Linked DNA regions of Homo sapiens. The protein of the gene in region 1 purifies or fractionates together with the protein of each later gene. This does not show direct contact. Each region holds a gene or a part of one and is shown in the gene's direction. Other genes may lie near its edges.

The links.
Region 2: the proteins of NAPG (region 1) and PRKACB purify together in Homo sapiens (affinity purification with mass spectrometry; 3 studies listed by BioGRID and IntAct, with this or other methods). This does not show direct contact.
Region 3: the proteins of NAPG (region 1) and ITM2C purify together in Homo sapiens (co-immunoprecipitation; one large-scale study listed by IntAct). This does not show direct contact.
Region 4: the proteins of NAPG (region 1) and STX18 purify together in Homo sapiens (co-immunoprecipitation; 2 studies listed by BioGRID and IntAct, with this or other methods). This does not show direct contact.
Region 5: the proteins of NAPG (region 1) and STX5 purify together in Homo sapiens (affinity purification with mass spectrometry; one large-scale study listed by BioGRID and IntAct). This does not show direct contact.
Region 6: the proteins of NAPG (region 1) and UFSP2 purify together in Homo sapiens (affinity purification with mass spectrometry; 2 studies listed by BioGRID and IntAct, with this or other methods). This does not show direct contact.
Region 7: the proteins of NAPG (region 1) and ODR4 purify together in Homo sapiens (affinity purification with mass spectrometry; one large-scale study listed by BioGRID and IntAct). This does not show direct contact.

Annotation. Positions count from the first base shown.
Region 1 is NC_000018.10:10,536,027-10,539,526, forward strand, and holds part of NAPG (gamma-soluble NSF attachment protein), read left to right. Parts: intron 1-2,906; exon of another isoform or gene 2,907-2,945; coding exon of another isoform or gene 2,946-2,948; intron 2,949-3,500. UniProt on the Homo sapiens protein: Required for vesicular transport between the endoplasmic reticulum and the Golgi apparatus.
Region 2 is NC_000001.11:84,231,271-84,234,770, forward strand, and holds part of PRKACB (cAMP-dependent protein kinase catalytic subunit beta), read left to right. Parts: intron 1-3,500. UniProt on the Homo sapiens protein: Mediates cAMP-dependent signaling triggered by receptor binding to GPCRs.
Region 3 is NC_000002.12:230,877,345-230,879,748, forward strand, and holds the end of ITM2C (integral membrane protein 2C), read left to right. Parts: intron 1-55; coding exon 56-206; intron 207-663; coding exon 664-755; 3' UTR 756-1,904; downstream 1,905-2,404. UniProt on the Homo sapiens protein: Negative regulator of amyloid-beta peptide production. May inhibit the processing of APP by blocking its access to alpha- and beta-secretase.
Region 4 is NC_000004.12:4,455,049-4,458,548, reverse strand, and holds part of STX18 (syntaxin-18), read left to right. Parts: intron 1-1,048; coding exon 1,049-1,126; intron 1,127-1,291; coding exon 1,292-1,358; intron 1,359-3,500. UniProt on the Homo sapiens protein: Syntaxin that may be involved in targeting and fusion of Golgi-derived retrograde transport vesicles with the ER.
Region 5 is NC_000011.10:62,822,052-62,825,551, reverse strand, and holds part of STX5 (syntaxin-5), read left to right. Parts: intron 1-12; coding exon 13-129; intron 130-212; coding exon 213-269; intron 270-434; coding exon 435-516; intron 517-986; coding exon 987-1,093; intron 1,094-1,264; coding exon 1,265-1,386; intron 1,387-3,500. UniProt on the Homo sapiens protein: Mediates endoplasmic reticulum to Golgi transport.
Region 6 is NC_000004.12:185,408,965-185,412,464, reverse strand, and holds part of UFSP2 (ufm1-specific protease 2), read left to right. Parts: intron 1-51; exon of another isoform or gene 52-3,500. UniProt on the Homo sapiens protein: Thiol-dependent isopeptidase that specifically cleaves UFM1, a ubiquitin-like modifier protein, from conjugated proteins, such as CD274/PD-L1, CYB5R3, DDRGK1, MRE11, RPL26/uL24, TRIP4 and RPL26/uL24.
Region 7 is NC_000001.11:186,382,338-186,385,837, forward strand, and holds part of ODR4 (protein odr-4 homolog), read left to right. Parts: intron 1-684; coding exon 685-819; intron 820-3,500. UniProt on the Homo sapiens protein: May play a role in the trafficking of a subset of G-protein coupled receptors.

The DNA of each region.
Region 1 (3,500 bases):
AGTGTACTTCATGCCTGTTTAAGAAATGCTCAAACACTCTAATTCTCACAGCCTCAGTTTATATTACAACAGCTGTACTAAGACTTGAATCTTCATCAAAAGTTATTATTCAGGCATCATTTCCATTGCTCAAGTATCTATTTAATTTGAGGGTTGGAAAGGCACTACTTTGAATGAAAGAAAATTAACTTAGTGGATAGGGAAACAGATGAAGGAAAATGCTTTCTGGCATTGTCTTATATTTAAATTAAATGCCTTTGGACACTGTTGGGAGCACAGGACCCCTGAGCTACGTGGTCCACAATTCTGTGGGCTAAAATTTCTACCAATTTGTCATACAAACCTTCACACTGATTCACCAGAAAGGCTTGGGGAGTGCCATTTTGTAGACATATGCACAAGGGAAGCCACAGAAACTTGTTGGATCAACCTTTGGTTCTGTCACTTGATGACTGCTGTGATTTCATATCCTGTTTGCTCCACTGGCACACAGCCATTGAAAATAGGCATATTTATGGTGGAGGGTATAACTTTCAAGTAGGCAGCTCATCATTTTTTATGGAGAAGTATCAATATTGTGGTTGGACCTCTTACTCACAGCCTCACTTGATTTTACGCAAAAACAGGAAGATGTAGTTGCTAATTTTTAAACAACAAATAGGACTCGGATGCCATTTTTACTGCCTTCTAATGTATTTTTTGCTCTATCTACTGGGTAAAACTCATGACGAATAGTTCCTGTGGTTTTTTTATCCTCCCAAATGCTTTTATGTTGTAGATTCACATTATATATGTAATTAGTGGGTAGGTATATTTGGGGAGGAAATACAGTTGACCCTTGAACTACCCAAGGGTTGGGATGCCAACCCCTTGTGCAGTTGAAACTCTACATATAACTTTTTACTCCCCAAAAACTTTACTAATAGCCTGTTTTTGTTTTTTTTTTTTGAGACAGGATCTTGCTCTGTTGCCCAGGCTGGATTGCAGTGGCACAATCATGGCTTACTGCAGCCTCAACCTCCTGGGCTCAGGCGATCCTCCCACCTCAGCCTCCTGAGTAGCTGGGACTATAGGTGCATGTCACCATGCCCTGCTAATTTTTTAATTTTTTTGGTAGAGACTGGTTCTCGCTGTTTTTCCCAGGCTGGGCTCAAACTCCTGGGCTCAAGTGATACTTCTGCCTCAACCTCCCAAAGTGCTGGGATTATAGGCGTGAGCCACTACCCTACTACTGACTGGAAGTCTTATAAATAATATAAACAGTCAGTTAGTACATATGTTGTATGTTGTATGGAATATGTTTTATACTGTATTCTTAGAATAAAGCTAGAGAAAAGAAAATATTAAGAAAATCGTAAGGAAGAGAAAATATATTTAGTGTTCTTTAAGTGGAAGTAGAGCATCATAGGGCTCTTCATCCTCATCATAGTCTTCACGTTTGGGCTGAGGAGGAGGAAGAGGAGGAGGAGGAAGAAGAGGGGTTGGTTTTGCTGTCTCAGGTGGCAGAGGAGCAAGACAGTCTGCGTATAATTGGACCAGCACAGTTTAAATCTCTGCTGTTCAAGGTTCAGTTGTATTCTTTAAAAGCCAAAATGACCCTCAGGACTAATGTGTCTGAGAGAGATTTTGTTAGGTTTACCTCCCCTGTTCATTCAGATATTTTTCAGCAGATATTGTAGACTCGGATTCTTTCATTGACTTTTGGTTTTATAACAAAAAAAGTATTGTTTTTATTTTTTCACTGAGGTTTGGAAATGCATTAGCATTTCATTCTGCTTGAGTGAATGATAGCAGTCTTATTTCATACAGTGTCTTTCAGTCTGTGTTATTGTTAGTTTCCATAGCTAAATAATAAAGTTATGTTTTGGGGTTGGCGAAAATGAGACCAGTTTTGTTAAGGGTATCCTAATGAATTTGTCAACTTAGCAAGGGACTGAATAGGCAGATTTGTAAACCACCCATGAGATGTCAGTGTGGAGCCTACCTTAAGATACAGCAAGTCAACACTAAATAAGTTGCTTATGTAAACTTTATAACTAGCTTTTAAACGGTGTTTTTTTTTAAGTTTATTTTTAAAATGTTTGATTTGGAGATATTAGACATTAGGACTGCATGATCCTGAGATGTGTAGATTAATAGTAAGATACAGAATTTATTAGTCATGGAAGAGGGTTGCAAACTCAGATGAACTCAGGGTGTAGAGGAATAACTAAAATGAATGAGCAGCTGGGACGTGGAGGGCATTTGGAAGTGAAGAGCGGGGAGAAGCGCCAGGAGGTGCATGCTCATGTGGCGGGACAGTGCTGCCCAGCCCCAGCCTGTTGCCATACAGGGATGCAAGCCTGCTGATGCCGTAGCTTTTGATATTTTTTTGAAGAAAGCCATAAAACAATTTTCATGAAAGTATCTAATTTAAAAATACTGCATGGATCAAGCAAAACACACTTGGAAGTGAGATAGAGTCATTGGGCTGCCAGTTTGTGATCCTTGGCATAGGTCTTGTATGTAGTAGGGACTTGGTAAATGTTTAAAGAATAAGAAGTGCTTAGAAAACAGTAAAGAGCAAGGTTTTTGGTTTTTTCTATTTTCATAGATTTCCCAAAGGTCTGTGAAGTGATGATGAACTCTGTGTAGAAATTACCTGGTACCTTTTTGATTGGGTTTAATGAAGCTTGATTGGGAGAGTAATCATGTGAAGCATTTCATTTTAAATATCTTTATTGCTATACAATGTATTTGAGTCATTTACTTTCATGAATTAGGGATAAAATAATTGTATTTCATATCCTTTGCCCACTTTTTGATTGGGTTTTTTTTTTCTTGTAAATTTAAGTTCCTTGTAGAAAAAGAAGACATACAGCCAAGAAACATGAAAAACAGCTCATCATCATTGATCATTAGAGAAATGCAAATCAAAACCACAATGAGATCTCACGCCAGTCAGAATGGTGATGATTAAGAAGTCAGGAAACAATAGATGCTGGCCAGGCTGTGGAGAAATAGGAAAGTTTTTATACTGTTGGTGGGAGTGTAAATTAGTTCAACCGTTGTGGAAGACAGTGTGGGGATTCCTCAAGGATCTAGAACCAGAAATACCATTTGACCCAGCAATCCCATTACTGGGCATATGCCCAAAGGAACATAAATCATTCTATAGAAACGTATGTTTATACAGTAAACACGTATGTTTATTGTAGCACCATTTACAATAGCAAAGACATGGAACCAACCCAAATGCCCATCAGTGATAGACTGGATAAAGAAAATGTGGTACATATACACCATGGAATACTATGCAGCTGTAAAAAAGAATGAGATCATGTCCTTTGCAGGGACATGGATGAAGCTGGAAGCCATCATTCTTGGCAAACTAACAAACACAGGAACAGAAAACCAAACACCGCATGTTCTCACTCATACGTGGGAATTGAACCACAAGGACACATGGACACAGGGAGGGGAACATCACACTCCTGGGCCTGTCGGGGGCTGGGGAATAA
Region 2 (3,500 bases), on another chromosome or scaffold:
CCACTTGATCATGGTGGATAAGCTTTTGGATGTGCTGCTGGATTTGGTTTGCCAGTATTTTATTGAGGATTTTTGCATCAATGTTCATCAAGGATATTGGACTAAAATTCTCTTTTTTGGTTGTGTCTCTGCCTGGCTTTGGTATCAGGATGATGCTGGCCTCATAAAATGAGTTAGGGAGGATTCCCTCTTTTTCTATTGATTGGAATAGTTTCAGAAGGAATGGTACCAATTCATCCTTGTACCTCTGGTAGAATTCGGCTGTGAATCCATCTGGTCCTGGACTCTTTTTGGTTGGTAAGCTATTGATTATTGCCACAATTTCAGATCCTGTTATTGGTCTATTCAGAGATTCAACTTCTTCCTGGTTTAGTCTTCAGAGAGTGTATGTGTCGAGGAATTTATCCATTTCTTCTAGATTTTCTAGTTTATTTGCGTAGAGGTGTTTGTAGTATTCTCTGATGGTAGTTTGTATTTCTGTGGGATTGGTGGTGATATCCCCTTTATCATTTTTTATTGCGTCTATTTGATTCTTCTCTCTTTTTTCTTTATTAGTCTTGCTAGCAGTCTATCAATTTTGTTGATCCTTTCAAAAAACCAGCTCCTGGATTCATTAATTTTTTGAAGGGTTTTTTGTGTCTCTATTTCCTTCAGTTCTGCTCTGATTTTAGTTATTTCTTGCCTTCTGCTAGCTTTTGAATGTGTTTGCTCTTGCTTTTCTAGTTCTTTTAATTGTGATGTTAGGGTGTCAATTTTGGATCTTTCCTGCTTTCTCTTGTGGGCATTTAGTGCCATAAATTTCCCTCCACACACTGCTTTGAATGTGTCCCAGAGATTCTGGTATGTTGTGTGTTTGCTCTCGTTGGTTTCAAAGAACATCTTTATTTCTGCCTTCATTTCGTTATGTACCCAGTAGTCATTCAGGAGCAGGTTGTTCAGTTTCCATGTAGTTGAGCGGTTTTGAGTGAGATTCTTAATCCTGAGTTCTAGTTTGATTGCACTGTGGTCTGAGAGATAGTTTGTTATAATTTCTGTTCTTTTACATTTGCTGAGGAGAGCTTTACTTCCAACTCTGTGGTCAATATTGGAATAGGTGTGGTGTGGTGCTGAAAAAAATGTATATTCTGTTGATTTGGGGTAGAGAGTTCTGTAGATGTCTATTAGGTCCACTTGGTGCAGAGCTGAGTTCAATTCCTTGTTGACTTTCTGTCTCATTGATCTGTCTAATGTTGACAGTGGGGTGTTAAAGTCTCCCATTATTAATGTGTGGGAGTCTAAGTCTTTTTGTAGGTCACTCAGGACTTGCTTTATGAATCTGGGTGCTCCTGTATTGGGTGCATATATATTTAGGATAGTTAGCTCTTCTTGTTGAATTGATCCCTTTACCATTATGTAATGGCCTTTTTTGACTCTTTTGATCTTTGTTGGTTTAAAGTCTGTTTTATCAGAGACTAGGATTGCAACCCCTGCCTTTTTTTGTTTTCCATTTGCTTGGTAGATCTTCCTCCATCCTTTTATTTTGAGCCTATGTGTGTCTCTGCATGTGAGATGGGTTTCCTGAATACAGCATACTGATGGGTCTTGACTCTTTATCCAATTTGCCAAGTCTGTGTCTTTTAATTGGAGAATTTAGTCCATTTACATTTAAAGTTAATATTGTTATGTGTGAATTTGATCCTGTCATTATGATGTTAGCTTGTTATTTTGCTCGTTAGTTGATGCAGTTTCTTCATAGTCTCGATGGTCTTTACATTTTGGCATGATTTTGCAGCAACTGGTACCGGTTGTTCCTTTCCATGTTTAGCACTTCCTTCAGGAGCTCTTTTAGGGCAGGCCTGGTGGTGACAAAGTCTCTCAACATTTGCTTGTCTGTAAAGTATTTTATTTCTCCTTCACTTATGAAGCTTAGTTTGGCTGGATATGAGATTCTGGGTTGAAAATTCTCTTCTTTAAGAATGTTGAATATTGGCACCCACTCTCTTCTGGCTTGTAGAGTTTCTGCCGAGAGATCCGCTGTTAGTCTGATGGGCTTCCCTTTGAGGGTAACCTGACCTTTCTCTCTGGCTGCCCTTAACATTTTTTCCTTCATTTCAACTTTGGTGAATCTGACAATTATGTGTCTTGGAGTTGCTCTTCTCGAGGAGTATCTTTGTGGCGTTCTCTGTATTTCCTGAATCTGAATGTTGGCCTGCCTTGCTAGATTGGGGAAGTTCTCCTGGATAATATCCTGCAGAGTGTTTTCCAACTTGGTTCCATTCTCCCCATCACTTTCAGGTACACCAATCAGACGTAGATTTGGTCTTTTCACATAGTCCCATATTTCTTGGAGGCTTTGCTCGTTTCTTTTTATTCTTTTTTCTCTAAACTTCCCTTCTCGCTTCATTTCATTCATTTCATCTTCCATTGCTGATACCCTTTCTTCCAGTTGATCGCATCGGCTCCTGAGGCTTCTGCATTCTTCACGTAGTTCTCGAGCCTTGGTTTTCAGCTCCATCAGCTCCTTTAAGCACTTCTCTGTATTGGTTATTCTAGTTATACATTCTTCTAAATTTTTTTCAAAGTTTTCAACTTCTTTGCCTTTGGTTTGAATGTCCTCCCGTAGCTCAGAGTAATTTGATCGTCTGAAGCCTTCTTCTCTCAGCTCGTCAAAGTCATTCTCCGTCCAGCTTTGTTCCGTTGCTGGTGAGGAACTGCGTTCCTTTGGAGGAGGAGAGGCGCTCTGCTTTTTAGAGTTTCCAGTTTTTCTGCTCTGTTTTTTCCCCATCTTTGTGGTTTTATCTACTTTTGGTCTTTGATGATGGTGATGTACAGATGGGTTTTTGGTGTGGATGTCCTTTCTGTTTGTTAGTTTTCCTTCTAACAGACAGGACCCTCAGCTGCAGGTCTGTTGGAGTACCTGGCCCTATGAGGTGTCAGTGTTCCCCTGCTGGGGGGTGCCTCCCAGTTAGGCTGCTCAGGGGTCAGGGGTCAGGGACCCACTTGAGGAAGCAGTCTGCCCGTTCTCAGATCTCCAGCTGTGTGCTGGGAGAACCACTGCTCTCTTCAAAGCTGTCAGACAGGGACATTTAAGTCTGCAGAGGTTACTGCTGTCTTTTTGTTTGTCTGTGCCCTGCCCCCAGAGGTGGAGCTTACAGAGGCAGGCAGGCCTCCTTGAGCTGTGGTGGGCTCCACCCAGTTCGAGCTTCCCAGCTGCTTTGTTTACCTAAGCAAGCCTGGGCAATGGCGGGCGCCCCTCCCCCAGCCTCACTGCCACCTTGCAGTTTGATCTCAGACTGCTGTGCTAGCAATCAGCGAGACTCCGTGGGCGTAGGTCCCTCCAAGCCAGGTGCAGGATATAATCTCCTGGTGCGCCGTTTTTTAAGCCCGTGGGAAAAGCGCAGTATTCGGGTGGGAGTGACCTGATTTTCCAGGTGCCGTCTGTCACCCCTTTCTTTGACTAGGAAAGGGAACTCCCTGACCCCTTGCGCTTCCTGAGTGAGGCAATGCCTTGCCCTGCTTCG
Region 3 (2,404 bases), on another chromosome or scaffold:
GGTTGGACGAAAGCCTGAGGGGCCGACTCACTGTGGCGGCCACCTTGTTTTGCAGAGGGGGACCTACCTGCCGCAGACGTACATCATCCAGGAGGAGATGGTGGTCACGGAGCATGTCAGTGACAAGGAGGCCCTGGGGTCCTTCATCTACCACCTGTGCAACGGGAAAGACACCTACCGGCTCCGGCGCCGGGCAACGCGGAGGCGTGAGTGGCTGGCTTCACCCACAGTAGCCCCTGTCCCGTGCCCCAGACCACAGTTATCTTCACGCCTAGCCCAGCTGTCAGAGAGCTCAGATAGCAGCAGCAATAACAGCTAGCATTAGCAGAGCACTTCCGTGTGCCGGGCAATGCTGTGTGCTCTTTATGACCTCTTAAGAGTGTAAGTCATTCTCATCCTCATTATTATTTTTGCTGCCCATTTTAAAGATGAGGAAACAGGTGCAGAGAGGTTAACACCCTGGAGGTCACACAGCAGGGAGGTGGCAGACATGGGCAGGCTGACTCCAGCTTTCGAGCTCTCCCCATTTCTCACTGTGCTCTTTGGGTGAATCTGGGTGAATGGTGTCACTTCCTGGCCCTCCTGTGGCTCAGGCTGAGGCTGGTGGTCTTTGTGACTCAGCCAGGATGCAGGGCTCACTGGGGTTTTTCTTTTTCCTCCCAGGGATCAACAAGCGTGGGGCCAAGAACTGCAATGCCATCCGCCACTTCGAGAACACCTTCGTGGTGGAGACGCTCATCTGCGGGGTGGTGTGAGGCCCTCCTCCCCCAGAACCCCCTGCCGTGTTCCTCTTTTCTTCTTTCCGGCTGCTCTCTGGCCCTCCTCCTTCCCCCTGCTTAGCTTGTACTTTGGACGCGTTTCTATAGAGGTGACATGTCTCTCCATTCCTCTCCAACCCTGCCCACCTCCCTGTACCAGAGCTGTGATCTCTCGGTGGGGGGCCCATCTCTGCTGACCTGGGTGTGGCGGAGGGAGAGGCGATGCTGCAAAGTGTTTTCTGTGTCCCACTGTCTTGAAGCTGGGCCTGCCAAAGCCTGGGCCCACAGCTGCACCGGCAGCCCAAGGGGAAGGACCGGTTGGGGGAGCCGGGCATGTGAGGCCCTGGGCAAGGGGATGGGGCTGTGGGGGCGGGGCGGCATGGGCTTCAGAAGTATCTGCACAATTAGAAAAGTCCTCAGAAGCTTTTTCTTGGAGGGTACACTTTCTTCACTGTCCCTATTCCTAGACCTGGGGCTTGAGCTGAGGATGGGACGATGTGCCCAGGGAGGGACCCACCAGAGCACAAGAGAAGGTGGCTACCTGGGGGTGTCCCAGGGACTCTGTCAGTGCCTTCAGCCCACCAGCAGGAGCTTGGAGTTTGGGGAGTGGGGATGAGTCCGTCAAGCACAACTGTTCTCTGAGTGGAACCAAAGAAGCAAGGAGCTAGGACCCCCAGTCCTGCCCCCCAGGAGCACAAGCAGGGTCCCCTCAGTCAAGGCAGTGGGATGGGCGGCTGAGGAACGGGGCAGGCAAGGTCACTGCTCAGTCACGTCCACGGGGGACGAGCCGTGGGTTCTGCTGAGTAGGTGGAGCTCATTGCTTTCTCCAAGCTTGGAACTGTTTTGAAAGATAACACAGAGGGAAAGGGAGAGCCACCTGGTACTTGTCCACCCTGCCTCCTCTGTTCTGAAATTCCATCCCCCTCAGCTTAGGGGAATGCACCTTTTTCCCTTTCCTTCTCACTTTTGCATGTTTTTACTGATCATTCGATATGCTAACCGTTCTCAGCCCTGAGCCTTGGAGAGGAGGGCTGTAACGCCTTCAGTCAGTCTCTGGGGATGAAACTCTTAAATGCTTTGTATATTTTCTCAATTAGATCTCTTTTCAGAAGTGTCTATAGAACAATAAAAATCTTTTACTTCTGACCTTGACTTGAGTGTGGCTGGAGGGGAGATGGGTGTAGGAGGGGTGCTCCGGGCAGGGTCGAGGAGCTGGACCTCGGGAGCAGCAGGCAGGGAGAAGCCTGCAGACCTTGACATCTGGCCCCTAAAGAGCTGGGCATCCTGGATTCAGCCAAGGAGTGTAGGATATCCCCTTCGTAGCACCCTGGATCTGAGCCAGGTAGAGTTCACACTTTCCGGGTGAGGAGGGGAACAGGGCTGGGAGAGCTTACCGACTCGCCCAAGGTCGTGCTGCTTTAAGTGCCTGTAAACCACCCTGTAATGTTCTACCTGGCAGATGACATCATTATTGCATGTCCTTAAGCACAAGGGCGGTGTCCTATTCTCCACCACGTCTGGACAATTTGTAACCATTCCTGGAGGATCTGAAGTGAGGTTTGGTGTGATAATCACAGGGTCACATTCTCCAGAGAATTCTGGAAGCGGCAGGAGAGCTGGCCAGAGCCATGTCTAGGTGGACCCCA
Region 4 (3,500 bases), on another chromosome or scaffold:
GTTCAAAGCTGCCAGATGCTGTTGTGCTCACAACACAGACTTTTGTTGGGGAGGTTTTTATTAGAATGCTGACGGACCACTTGGAGACTCTGATGGAAGCAATAGGCATTCTTGCCAGAAAAATGTACATACACAAAATTCTATATGCAATTTCACAGAGCTCCTGAGTCCCCCACACAAATCTTGGGTTAAGCAGCCCTATAGTAAGGCAGAAATCATGCCCTCTACCCTTAAGGGCATATACATTCATTGAGAGACCTAAAAAATGCACAGGAATATTTAACAAAACCTACATTTACATATGAAACCATCTAACCTTGGGCTATTTATTGCCTCTGAACCTTAGTTTCTTCACGTGTAAAAATCAGGAAACTCGGAATTGCTATTGTAATTACTAGCAGTACATATGTAAAGTGCTAGCAGAGTACCTGCACGCAGTAGGCACTCAGTCTCTCAGTCAGTGGTCACTATCTTACCAAAACCAGTGGCACAGACTTTAGGTCTGGTAAGGCCTTTTAGCACACTTCTGTGTGGTAGTTCCCAGGAGAAAGGCATCTTTGTGGCTAGGAGTCATAGGTTTCCTGGAGACAGAAAGTTTGACTCATTGTCTAAGGGACCCTTAGAATGTGAGTGGCCAAGGGGAGAGGATGGGGCACTACAGGCTGAAAAGCAGCACAGGTTCAAGCAGGGAGGAGTGTGTGATTTCAGTTGTTTAAACATGTTCGCTGAAGGTCAGCTTGAGCATTGGATGCTGTTAACACAGATGGGGTCAGCACTCAAGAAGTGGCTGCGTCAAATACTATCCTTAAGTGTTCTGATAAACCATAAATTATTTGACTATAGATTTTCTACAGGTTTAATCTTTCACTCTTGCGAAGCCTGATACATCTTACTGTTTTAAAAATGTAGTGTCACTTGGCACAAGACTTGTTTTATAGCTGTGTTTTAAAAAATACTCTCAATAAAGAAAGTGTTGTGAGGAAGCTGATGAATTGCTCTTTAGGATAATTGAGTGCGAAGGCCTGAACATTGTCTTTTTCTGTTACAGCTCACAAGGAGATACATTCCCAGCAAGTGAAGGAGCACAGGACCGCTGTTTTGGATTTCATTGAAGATTACTTGAAAAGTATTTCATTTTCTTTTAAAGGTCAAATGTAACATTTCACAATAGATGTGATGCAGAATTTAGCTTTGCTAGCTGAAGACTGTAGTATCTCATTATATTTAATGATGGCTTTGCCTGAGAAGCTGTTTTAAGCAGTCTCTCTTCTGGTATTTTCTTCTGCAACAGGAGTATGTAAACTTTACTCAGAACAGAGAGCCATCCGAGTTAAAAGAGTGGTGGATAAGAAAAGATTGTAAGTATTGCTTTCATTGGTGTTTCTTAATTAATAATAGTACTACTAATAATAGCAGTTAAAGTTTGTAGAGCACTTACCCTATGCAATGTACCGTGTTTGAACTTCTTCGCAAAATGCCATAGCTGGCGCTACCGGGCACTCACTGTGTGCCAGGCAGCATGCCAGCCACTTTATTGGCCCACAACAAACCCCCATGAGGCAGGTACTGTTTCCTCCCTCATTTTACAAATGAGGAAGTTGAGGCTCAGGAGGCTTGGCCACTCACCCTAGATCCCACAGTCCCACAGGTAGCATAGCTGGGGTTTGAGCCTAGGCTGTTGGTCCAAAATCTGTGCTCTTGCCCATTTTGTCTCTTAACCCGATGAGGCTGGCACATCTTGAGCCATTTTACCTCAATCTCTTTGACCCCCATACCCCTTCTTGTCGTCCCTGAAAGTGTATTCCTGAGAGAAGAGCGAGGGCACAACAAGCAGGCCACCACAAGGCTGTCCTCAGGTCACCTGTGACAGACTTGCTCGATGCCACATGCTCTGAGTGCACACCTCCCTCCAACCCCACTACCTGTCCCATGCAGGCACTATTAGGAGCCCTGTCAGCAGGTAAGGACGCTGACGCTCCAGCAGGGTAAATGACTCATCCAAGGCCACAGGAAGCAGGAGGGCCAGGCTCCTGTATTTTCCATGGCGCCTGCCTGGTTTCCCCTCTGGGCTCACATGAGCATCTGGAATGCAAGAGCTGTGTCCTCACAGTCGTTCCCGCTGCAACTCAGCCAGTCTTGGAGATGGAATACATCAGTGAGCAAGTATCCAAACCTGGACCATTTCTAGACTAGCTTTAGAAAGGTTTTAGGATGTTCTTTCAGAAGATAACATCACATAACTGTTTGGGGACACATTTTCTTTTTTGTTTTTTTTTGTTTTTTTTGTTTTTGAGACAGGGTCTCACCCTGTCTCCCAGGATGGAGTGCAGTGGCACGACCTCCTGGGCTCAAACAATCCTCCCACTTTAGCCTTCCGAGTAGCTGGGATTACAGGCATGTGCTACCATGTCTGCCTATTTTTTAATTTTATTTTATAAGGGTGGGATGTCACTATGTTGCCCAGGCTGCTGTCAAACTCCTGGGCTCAGGCAATCCCCCTGCCTCCCAAAGTGCTGGACTACAGGCGTGAGCCACCATGTCTGGCCCACATTTTTTAAATTCTTACTGTGTCAGGGGTCCCCAGCACTACTCTCTGGTTCTAGGATTCACTAAGAGGTCTCATGGGACTCAACATACAGTCCTGCTCCTGGCTATGATTTGTCACACTGAAAGGATACGAAGCAAAACAGCAAAGGAAAAGGCATGTGGGACAAAAGTCCAGAGGAAACCAGGCATGAGCTTCTAAGAGTACTCTCCCAGTGGAGTCACACAGCATGTGACCTATGACAACACGTGAAGTGTTGTCTACCAGGGAAGCTCATTAGTAACTCATTGCCCAAGGATTCTGTTAGGGGCTGGTCACATAGGCACCTCACACCTGGCATCTACCGAAACTCTAGACTCCCAGGAGGAAAGCAGGTGCTCAGCACTGAACTGCATTCAAACCGCATGTTTTGCAAAACAGTTCAGGCACGGCGAGCTGTTTTTATCAATTAGGATGGCATGAACTCTGCCAAAGTCCAACTTCTCAGATGCCAGGCAAGGGTTAACCTTGCAAGCAGGCCTTTCTAAGGATAGCAGCCTCAGGCCTACTACATGAACCCTTTTCTGCACATTTGTGAAACAGATGTGAAATTGTTAATGCCAACAAATAGAAGCATTTGTGGAAGATAGTAAGCAGATCAGTCAAGTTATCTGTCAGCAACAGCTACTATTATATAATGCACTGAGAGGGTAGCTTGAGAGAAGCCATAGATTAAGTCTTTGTGCTTAGAGAGCTTAGAAGCAGGCTGGGTTGCTATTAAACATGAAAAATTAGTCAGCTTAATCAGGATATGTCATAATTAGTGAAATCGGTAGTAAGCTCAGAGGGGGAAATGGTACGATCAAGTGGCATAGTATAATGCCTAAGAGCCAGACTCTGCAACCAGACAGCCTGTGTTTGAATCCTGGCTCTGCCACTTTCAAACTGTGTGACTTTGAGCAGGTTGCTTAACTTT
Region 5 (3,500 bases), on another chromosome or scaffold:
CTCTTTTACCAGGACATCAATAGCCTCAACAAACAAATTGCTCAGCTCCAGGATTTCGTGAGAGCCAAGGGCAGCCAGAGTGGCCGGCACCTGCAGACCCACTCCAACACCATTGTGGTCTCCTTGCAGGTGGGACCTGGGGAGGAAGGGAGGGAGGCAAAGAGGAAGAATGTGGAGCCTTCTTTGGTTGACCCTCTCTCCTTTTCTTCTAGTCGAAACTGGCTTCTATGTCCAATGACTTCAAATCGGTTTTAGAAGTGAGGACAGAGGTGAGAACAATCTGCGTAGGAGGGGTAGGAATATGGGAGTAAAGATCCAAGAGGGAAATGAAGAAGGGACAAGTTCTACAGGGTCATGGGGCCAATGGTGGGAGTCTCTTTAACATGCCTGCTTTCTAGTGGCTTCAGGTCCTTTGCGTTTTTCCCCAACCCCAGAACCTGAAGCAGCAGAGGAGCCGGAGAGAGCAGTTCTCCCGGGCACCTGTGTCAGCCCTGCCCCTTGCCCCTAACCACCTGGGTAAGTCACAGGTAAAACGGGGAGCCCTGGGAGGTAAGGTTACTTACTCTGGTTGTGATGGCATCCTCTAAAGGCACGGGTTGGGTAGGAGAGTGGAAGGTCAAGGAATTTTCTAGGCTTTATCTCTCAGAGGCCAAACCAGATGGTTGAGATTCGTGATCCACATTTAGACTCCCACATTCTCACTGTTGGGGTGAATTCAGTTATATTCAGAATAATGATAATTTCTAATTTTTTTTCGTACACTTTATTCACATTCTCTCATTTAATTTTCACAACCACCCTTTGAGAAAGCAACTATTATTATCCCCCATTTTACAGGTGAGGAAACTGAGGCTCAGAGAGGTTAAATGACCTGTCCAGGGTCACAAGGCTAGTAAGTGCTAGAGCTGGGATTCAAACCCAGAGCATGTGGGCTTTGAACCTGCTTTTAACTGTTAAGGTGTGCCACATCCTGTTTTCTCCCCCAGGCGGTGGTGCTGTGGTTCTGGGGGCAGAGTCCCATGCCTCCAAGGATGTCGCCATCGACATGATGGACTCTCGGACCAGCCAGCAGCTGCAGCTCATTGACGAGCAGGTACCCAGGCTCTGAACTAGGTAGAATCAGCTTCTCCATTATCCTCTGTGGTTCCCGAGAGAGTGTTTGGAGTGTGCCATGGGCAGAATGGCAAGCTGGGAGGGTTGTAAAAATGCAGGTCTGACCCTGAAGAAGCTGTTGGTGCTCATGTGCTCTCTCCCTCTCCTGAAGGATTCCTACATCCAGAGTCGGGCAGACACCATGCAGAACATTGAGTCGACAATTGTTGAGTTGGGCTCCATCTTTCAGCAGTTGGCACACATGGTTAAGGAACAGGAGGAAACCATTCAGAGGTGAGATACACTCTCTCGCCCCAAACAGAGGAGCTTTCTCTTCCCCGTGGATTGGCATCTTAAAGTCCCCAGGGACTGCTTGATGCCTTTTGGAAGATAGAGTGAATTCTGCCCACCCATGGGACCCAGTTCACCTGCTTCCATCCACCCAACAAGTTTTTATTGAGCACCTGTTCATGTGAGGCACTGTTCCAGGTGCGGGAGATACAGTGGCAAGTAGAACAGTAAAGTCTGTCTGGAGCTGCTTTGTAGCATGTGTAAGTGTATGGAATTTGATAGGGCAGATGAGGACAGCTGTGGAAAAGAACTGACAAGGCTGGCACAGTGACTCACACCTGTAATCCCATAGGCAGCACTTTGGGAGGCCGAGCAATGCAGATCGCTTGAGTTCAGGAATTCAAGACCAGTTTGGGCAACAAAGCAAGACCCTGTCTCTACAAAAAAATACAAAAACTAGCTGGGCATGGTGGCATGGGCCTGTAGTCCCAGCTACTCGAGAGGCTGAGGTGGGAGGATGGCTTGAGCCTGGGAGGCAGAGGTTGCAGTGAGCCAAGATCGTGCCACTGCACTCCAGCCTGGGTGACAGAGCCAGATTCTGTGTCAAAAAAATAAAAATAAAAAATTGACCAACAAAATTTCAGGGAGTAATAAAGGCTGTATACAGAGTTAAAATAGGATGATGTGTTAAGAAAGTAATGGATGGGTACGGTGGCTTACACCTGTAATTCCAGCACTTTGGGAGGCCCACACAGTCAGTTGAACTCAGGAGTTCAAGACCAGCCTGGGCAACATGGTGAAACCCCATCTCTACAAAAATAAAAAAATTAGCTGGACATGGTTGCGTGTGCCTGTGGTTCCAGCTACTCGGGAGGCTGAGGCGGGAGGATGACTTAAGCATGGGAGGTTGAGGCTGCAGTGAGCCATGATGGAACCACTGCGCTCCAGTCTGAGTGACAGAGCAAGACCCCATCTCAAAAAAAAAAAAGAAAGTGACTAAGTAGGTATATCAGATTGTGTGGTAGGGAATGCTGCTCTGAAGACATGACATTTAAGCAGAGACTTGAATGACAAGAGGGATCCAACCAGGCAAAGAACAGAGAGTGTTCTAGGCCGAGGAGACAGCTAGAGCAAAGCCTTGTGATGGGACAGTCTCACCATAGCAAGAATCAAGAAGGCCTGCGTGGCTAGAAAGTAATGAACAGGGATAGAGAAGTACAGGGTGTACTGGAGGGATGTAGGCAGAGGCCCAACAATGGGCTGGCCTCTCTGTTCCTCTGGTGCCTCCTGCTACTACAAGAGTTTTTATCTGCTCCTCCTCTGTGGTGCTTAGCATTCAGTCAGTCAGTTATGGGAATATAGCAGTGGACAAAAGAGACAAAATCCTTGCCCTTGTGGAACGTGTATCCTAATAGGGAGATAGATGTGAAAAAGTCATAATAAATAGTATGTTAAAAAAAAAAAAGGTCGTAAATGCCAAAAAAAAAAAAAAAGATAGTCAACACAGGATAAACTAATCAGGAGTGCCAGGTTTGGAGGGAGGTAGGCCCTATTAAGAAGGTGGCATCACACTTGGGAGAAGGTGAGGAAATTAGCTACATAGACCCTGGCAAAGGCCCGCAGGTGACAATATGTTTGATGAGTTAAAGGACAGCAGAGACTACTGCAGCTGGGATCAATGAGGAAGAGAGTTGTACAAGGTGTGGTCAGAGGGGAACTGTGAGACCTCTTGGGACCATTGGTAGGCTTTAGCTTTTACTCTGAGTGACATAGGGAGCCATTGCAGGGGTTAGTTTTTCTGTGTTTGAGACAGAGCCTTGCTGTGTCGCCCAGGCTGGAGTGCAGTGGCATGATCTTGGCTCACTGCAACCTCCACCTCCTAGGTTCAAGTGATTCTCATGCCTCAGTCTCCCGAGTACCTGGGACCACAGGTGTGCACCGCCATGCCCGGCTACTTTTTGTATTTTTAGTAGAGACAGAGTTTTGCCACATTGGCCAGGCTGGTCTTGGACTCCTGGCCTCCAGTAACCTGTCCACCTTGGCCTCCCAAAGTGCCGGGATTACAGGTGTGAGCCATCACAACTGGCCAAATACATTTAACTTTATTTATTTATGCA
Region 6 (3,500 bases), on another chromosome or scaffold:
TTTGAGGAAATCTTAAGAATTAAAAAAATGCATATACGATACAGTACGTACCCTAGATGAGTTAGGGGCCCACTTGTGGTCTTGGTCATTAGAGTGTACTCAGGGCAGCAGATCATCTGCAAAAGCTGTGGGCCAACCAGCTTCCATAGAAAGTTCCTCACAAAAAGAATAGTTCCTTAGAAGAACCTGGACACACAGAAGGTATTGAATGAGTACTGATTGCTTTTTGACAATAAAATAGGTTCATTATATCTGTATTACAAGGTCGTAAGAAAAATATATACTTTACATATTTATCATGTAATATTTGATATGTACATATAACATATGCAAATTGTAAAGCACAGTGGGGAAATGAATACCAGGGAGCTCCTCCCTAATTTAAGAAGCAAAACTTTACCAGTCTGTGCTCTTTCCCTACCCACTCCTCTGCCTCCTCGACACAGTTCCAGGAGGAACTATTATGGGTTTTGTGTTCATCATTTCCTTCCTTTTTAAAAAGTAGTTTCAGCGTATATGTTACATATCAATCTCAGCAATGTCGCTTTTAGTATTGCATAGTTCTGAGTTTTATAAATATGGTATCATTCTGTACGTAGTCTCTGCAGCTTGCTTTTTCACTCAATATTACATATCAAACATCTCTGGTATTTTGTCTAACCATAGTTAATTATCTTTATGATTTTTTCCAAGTTTTTTTGCTGTTTAGACAATGAACATTCCTATACCTCTCGATACATATGTGCAACAGTTGTTAACATTTTGCTATATCTGCTTCATTTCTCCCTCTTTTTTCCCCCTCTGAACCATTTCAAGGAAAATTATAGATATATTATTTACCCTTAAATACTTTGGCACAAATCTCTCAACAATATAGATGTGCATTCATGAAATAAACTCGGTTTGGTTATGACTCATTATTTTTTATTCCCCTCTGGATTCCATTTGCTAATATTTTACGATTTTTGCATCTATGTTCGTGAATGATACTGGCTTATAATTTTCTTCTCTCATACTGTTCTTATTTTGTTTTTTTATTAGTGATATACTGGTTTACTAAATTAGTTAGGTTAATGTTCCTTTTTTAGTTTTTTAGAGAAGTTTATATAAGAGTGGTATGATCTTTCCTTGGTCATTTGGTAAAACTTGCCTGTAAAACAATTTTGGCGTAGCATTTTCTTTGTGAGAAGATTTTTAGTAACCAATTTAGTTTTGGTAACAGCTTTAGGACTTTTTGATTTTTATAAGTTATTTACCTAGGTTTTAATATATCTTGTAGTCATAATATTTTCTTTTTCATTCTTCATATCATTTTTATGCCTTGTGTCTTTTAAAAAAAAAAAAACTTTTGGCTTTGTTGGCCCCCTCTATTATAACTTCTGTATTTGATTTTATTAATTTTTGCTCTTTACTTTCTTTTTTTTTGCTCTTTCTTTGATTTATTGTCTTTCTTCTAACTTCTTAAGTTGGACATGTTAGCTTATTGCTAATATTTCTTTCTTTCTTTTTTTTTTTTTTTGAGATGGAGTCTTGCTCTGTTGCCCAGGCTGGAGTGCAGTGGCACAATCTTGGCTCACTGCAACCTCCGCCTCCTGGGTTCCAGCGATTATCCTCCCTCAGCCTCCCAAGTAGCTGGGATTACAGGAGGGTGCTACCACGCCTAGCTCATTTTTGTATTTTTTAGTAGAGATGGGGTTTCACCGTATTGGCCAGGCTGGTCTCAAACTCCTGACCTCGTGATCTGCCTGCCTCAGCCTCCCAAAGTGCTGGGATTACAGGCGTGAGCCACTGCGCCCGGCCTAATCTTTCTTTTTTTTGAGATGGAGTCTTGCTCGGTTGCCCAGGCTAGAGTGCAGTGGCATGATCTCAGCTCACTGCAACCTCTGCCTCCCTGGTTCAGGCAATTCTCCTGCCTCAGCCTCCCCAGTAGCTAGGATTACTGGCAATAGCCATACGCCTGGCTAATTTTTGTATTTTTAGTAGAGACAGGGTTTCATCATGCTGGCCAGGCTGGTCTCGAACTCCTGACTTTAGGTGATCTACCCACTCGGCCTCCCAAAGTGCTGGGATTACAGGCATGAGCCACCGTGCCTGGACAGCTTTCTTATTTTCTAATGTAAGCTTTTAAATTTCAAGCAAAGCACTGCTTTTAGTGTATCTTATAGGTTTAATTTGAAGGATTTTAGTTTTGTTCACTTCTAAGTATTTTTATATTTTTCTATTATGGTTTTTCTTTTGTCCATGTATTATTTAGAAGTGTTTGTTAATGTCCAAATATGTCAGAATTTATTTTTCTTTTTTGCTTTTTTTTTCTTCTTGTTTTAACTGGTTTCTGACTCTTGCCTCCTGGTCAGAAAGAATTCTAAGTGAAACTAACTCTGAAATTTATTGAAACTTGTATTTGTTCCCTAAAAAATAATAACATATTTGATGGCTTAAAACTACAAAAATGTATTGTCTCAGTTCTGGAGTTCTGAAAGTAGTATCACTGGGCTGACATCACAATGTCAGCAGGACCACCTTCCCTCCATAGGCTCTTGGGGAGAATCCATTCCTTAATCTGATGGCTGCCAGCATCCTTTGGTTTGTGGCCCCATCATTCCGATCTCTGCCTCCTCAGTCACATTACCTTCTCCTCCTATGCCCCTCTCTTTTAAGAATATATGTGATTGCATTTAGGGCACACTAGGATCCAGGATAACCTCCCCATCTTAAGATCCTTAATCACGTCTATGAATACCTTTGCTTTCCTTTTTTCTTTTACTTTTTGGCACAGAGGGTGCATTCACAAGTTCCAGGGATTAGGACATACATACCTTTTGGGAGCCACTTTTCAGCCTGTCACAATGGTCAAGTTATAAATTTTTCTATCTGTGCTTGGGCAGAATATATATTCTCTAATTGTTGGGTGAGGGTTGGTTCTATCTTGTCCCTATCTCCTCTCACTTAATTTTTTAAAAATATCATCAGTTTGGAGCCAGGCATGGTGGTGTGCAACTGTAATCCCAGCTACTCAGGAGGCTGAGGCAGGAGGATCACTTGAGCCTAGAAGTTCAAGACCAACCTGAGCAACATAGTGTGACCCAATCTCAAAAAAATAAAAACAAAAACCCAGTTCTTTAATAAAAAAAGACATATACATTCTTAGCACTATAAGTAAGAATTTATATGATATTAGTAATTTATTTATCTTTATTTTTTGACCCTTAACTTAGCGTCATCAAATAACATACTTGGGCTGTAATCATAGCAGGTTTATAAATTTAGACACATTCTTCCTGTGTCCCATGATATGGACCCTTCATTTGTTTGTTCATTCCTTTATTCCTTCCTTCATTCATTCAGCATTTATTCAGCAGCATTTATATTAACCGTGTGCCAGGCGTGTTGTAGAAGCTTGGGCCCAAAAATGGATAAGACACAGTGTATGTACTCACTGAGCTCACATATTAGTGTAAGTAGGCAGATATTTTTTAAATGATAAGTAATGTATCATTTAA
Region 7 (3,500 bases), on another chromosome or scaffold:
TTGCTTGAGCCCAGGAGTGCAAGGTTGCAGTGAGCTATGATCACACCACTGCACTCCAGCCTGGGCATTAGAGCAAGACCCTGTCTCTAAATAAATAAATAAATACACACACACACAAAGAACAAAAAACAAAACAAAACAAAAAACTTGAGGAACATAGAATCTGTATCACTTTAAATTGTGTCCCAAATCCCCTTTGTTATTCTGTGGAAATGTATGTGGAAGTTCCCTACTGTCATCATTTCAATTAAAATAAGATACAAAAGGTCACTTGTTGTTTCATTTTACTAATATTTTCCGATCTGTTCATTTATAACTTATAAAACAAATATAACTAGAAAACTGAATAAGCATATTACTTTTTAGTTAATGTAATTCATTCACTCATCCAGTAAACCATTTTTAGGGACCACTCCATGATTTACATTTGAGTTGTCCAAATAAATAAGAAGCTGATATTAAATACATTAAAAGATAAACAACATGTGAGGGAAAGATTGTAAGGCCATCCTTGAAAATTAGCTTCCCTTTAGCTTCCATTATAATGTGGGTATTAATGATTTAACCTGTTACAAATATTACTCAGTTTTTGCATGTCATAAAAGCTAAGGAATTTAGGTATCACTCTAATTAGATTGAGGAATCAGATATCACTCTAACAAGCTTTTTAATTTGTTGTTGAAGTGTTCGTCACAAAAGGATTATGTGATTCTTGCCACTAGAACGCCACCCAAAGAGGAGCAAAGTGAGAACCTCAAACATCCCAAAGCTAAGTTGGATAACTTGGATGAAGAATGGGCCACAGAACATGCCTGCCAGGTTATCTTATTTTTTTGTTTATATGTTTAAGTTTTATTTCAAAAAAGAGCTAGAATCAAGAAGATTTAGTGAATGAGTAGAGAGAAGAGACATAGGGAGAAAGTAGCTAAAGATGACTGAGATTTTTAGTCTGGGTGTCTAGGAGGATACTGTTGGCATTACACGAGGAAGAAACAGATTTGGGATGGGTGAGTGGGAATAATGACTAAATTAATTCACTTACAAGTATTTATTGAATGAATTATATATCATCAAATAAATAATGTTAGAATAAGGTAAAAATAGAATTATTTCCTTTTCTGGGGTTGGGGGTGAGGGGAGGGAACTTAGAGGACAGGTCAATAGGTGCAGCAAGCCACCATGGCACACGTAAACCTATGTGACAGACTTGCACATTCTGCGTTTTTGTTTGTTTGTTTTAAGAAAAAGAATTTTCTTTAATAAATAAAAGATTTATTTCCTTTTCCAATCAACTTTAAATCTTTAAATCTTTTAAACTCAAACGTGTTTCTGTGTATGTAGATATATATATATATATATATGGACATATATTTGTGTCTGTGTATGTGTTTGATTATGGAGCAGTGTGTAGTTATATTTAAAAAAAAAATAAAATCTTGCCTGTAATCCCAGCACTTTGGGAGGCCAAGGTGGGTGGATCACCTGAGGTCAGGAGTTCAAGACCAGCCTGGCCAACATGGTGAAACCCCGTCTCTAGTAAAAATATGAAAAACTAGCCAGGTGTGGTGGCAGGTGCCTGTAATCCCAGCTACTTGGGAGGCTGAGGCAGGAGAATTGCTTGAACCTGGGAGGCGGAGGTTGCAATGAGCCAAGATCACACCATTGCACTCCAGACTGGGCGACAAAGCGAGACTCTGTCTCAACAAAACAAAACGAAGAAATCCAGTATTTAATTATTATTGTTTTAGTCTGTTTGGGTGGCTATTAAGGAATACCTAAGACTGAGTAATTTATAAAGAAAAAAAGGCCTGTTTGGCTCATGATTCTGCTGGCTGCAAGATTGAGCATCTGGTCAAAGCCTCAGGCTGCTTCTGTTCATGTCAGAAGGCAGATTGGAGCTGGTGTGTAAAGATCACTGGGCCAGAGAGGAAGCAAGGGGTTGGGAGGTGCTAGGCTTTTTTTTTTAACAACCAGCTCTCGTAGGAACAAATATAGCGAGAACTCATTCACTGCTCTGAGGATGGAACCAAGCCATTAATGAGGGATCTGCCCCATGACCCAAACACCTTCCATTAGGCCCCACTTGGGTTCACATTTCAACATGGTGTTTAAGGGGACAAACATGGCAACTATCTTCTAAAGAAAATATTAAGTAATGTAAAGTTAAATTCCCAATGGTTTGTAAATAACTTTCTACTCTAATTTTGCTTTTGGTCTCTCATAAAATTGTATATGACACACACACACACACACACACACACACACACAGAATATTAATGAATTTATATAGTAAATTAGCTTAACCTTTTACCTCTAGAAAGAAAAGGTTAATTTTACTTTTTCCCCTTTCTTGCTCTCACCTCCATCTCCTAAAAAATGGTTACTTTTTTGTGTTGGTGATTTTGAAAAGATATGCAGGCTCCTTATGCTAAATATGAAAACTTTATTTGTCAGAATTGTGCTACTATAGTAAATAGAATTTATTAAATCAGAGGAAAACACCGAAAGACATAGTGCAAGTAGATTAAGGATTAGAGCATGGTACCTAATTTTCTAAGACTGTACTCTGATTGATTGCTTGTACATTAAGTAATCAAAAGCTAACCAAAACACTCTAATCTCTGAGTGTAGATGATAGAAAAAAATCCATGTGGTATTAAGAACTAGCCACAATCATGTGAAGGGAAATACAGATATGGAGATATCATGGTAGTATGTATCAAAAACCTTAAAAATATGTATAACTTCTTAAACCAGTTATCCACCTCAAGGGATTTGTCCTAAACAAATAATTCTATGAATGCAGAAAGATGTACTAGGATTTTTAATCAATATTATTTTAAGGTAAAATTAGATATAGCAAAGATGCCCAGTATCAGTAAGTGGGCTTAAAAATTTGAGGTTAATCTATGCAATAGAAAATAATGGATTTTCAAGTCAGACTCCCTCTGTTCAAATTCCAGATCTAGTATGCTGCTAAAAATAGGGATACAGAGGTAGAATTACTTATTCCCTTAAGGAGCTCCCTGACCAACTAGTAGGGTTCACAGATAACTATGATATAAGACTATGTGATAAAATCCATGGGAAAACTACACCAAAGCCCTGTCGGAGTTCAGAGATGAAAAGATCAGAGAAGGCAGCTTCCTCAAGCTGCCTTTGAAGTATCCAGTAGGGTTGAGACATGCAGAAGTATAAGAAAAAGTCAGTTTCGGCCTAGGGAACACCCTGAGTAAAGACACATAGTTAGAAAGCCTAGGATGTGTATGGAAAACAGTTTATAGCCTCATTTGACACTACTTTTCAAGTAGTTTTTGACAAATATTTGAATTACTTGAGGAAAAGTAGTGTCAAATGAGGGTATAAACATCATTGACCAGATCCTAGAAAGTCTGAAATATCAATCTAAAATAAAACTTCATTTTATTTAGCTGATGGTGGGACGCCATTGAAAAAATATTTCAGTCTTTGATCTCCTGAGAAAAGGATTTATTTATTGA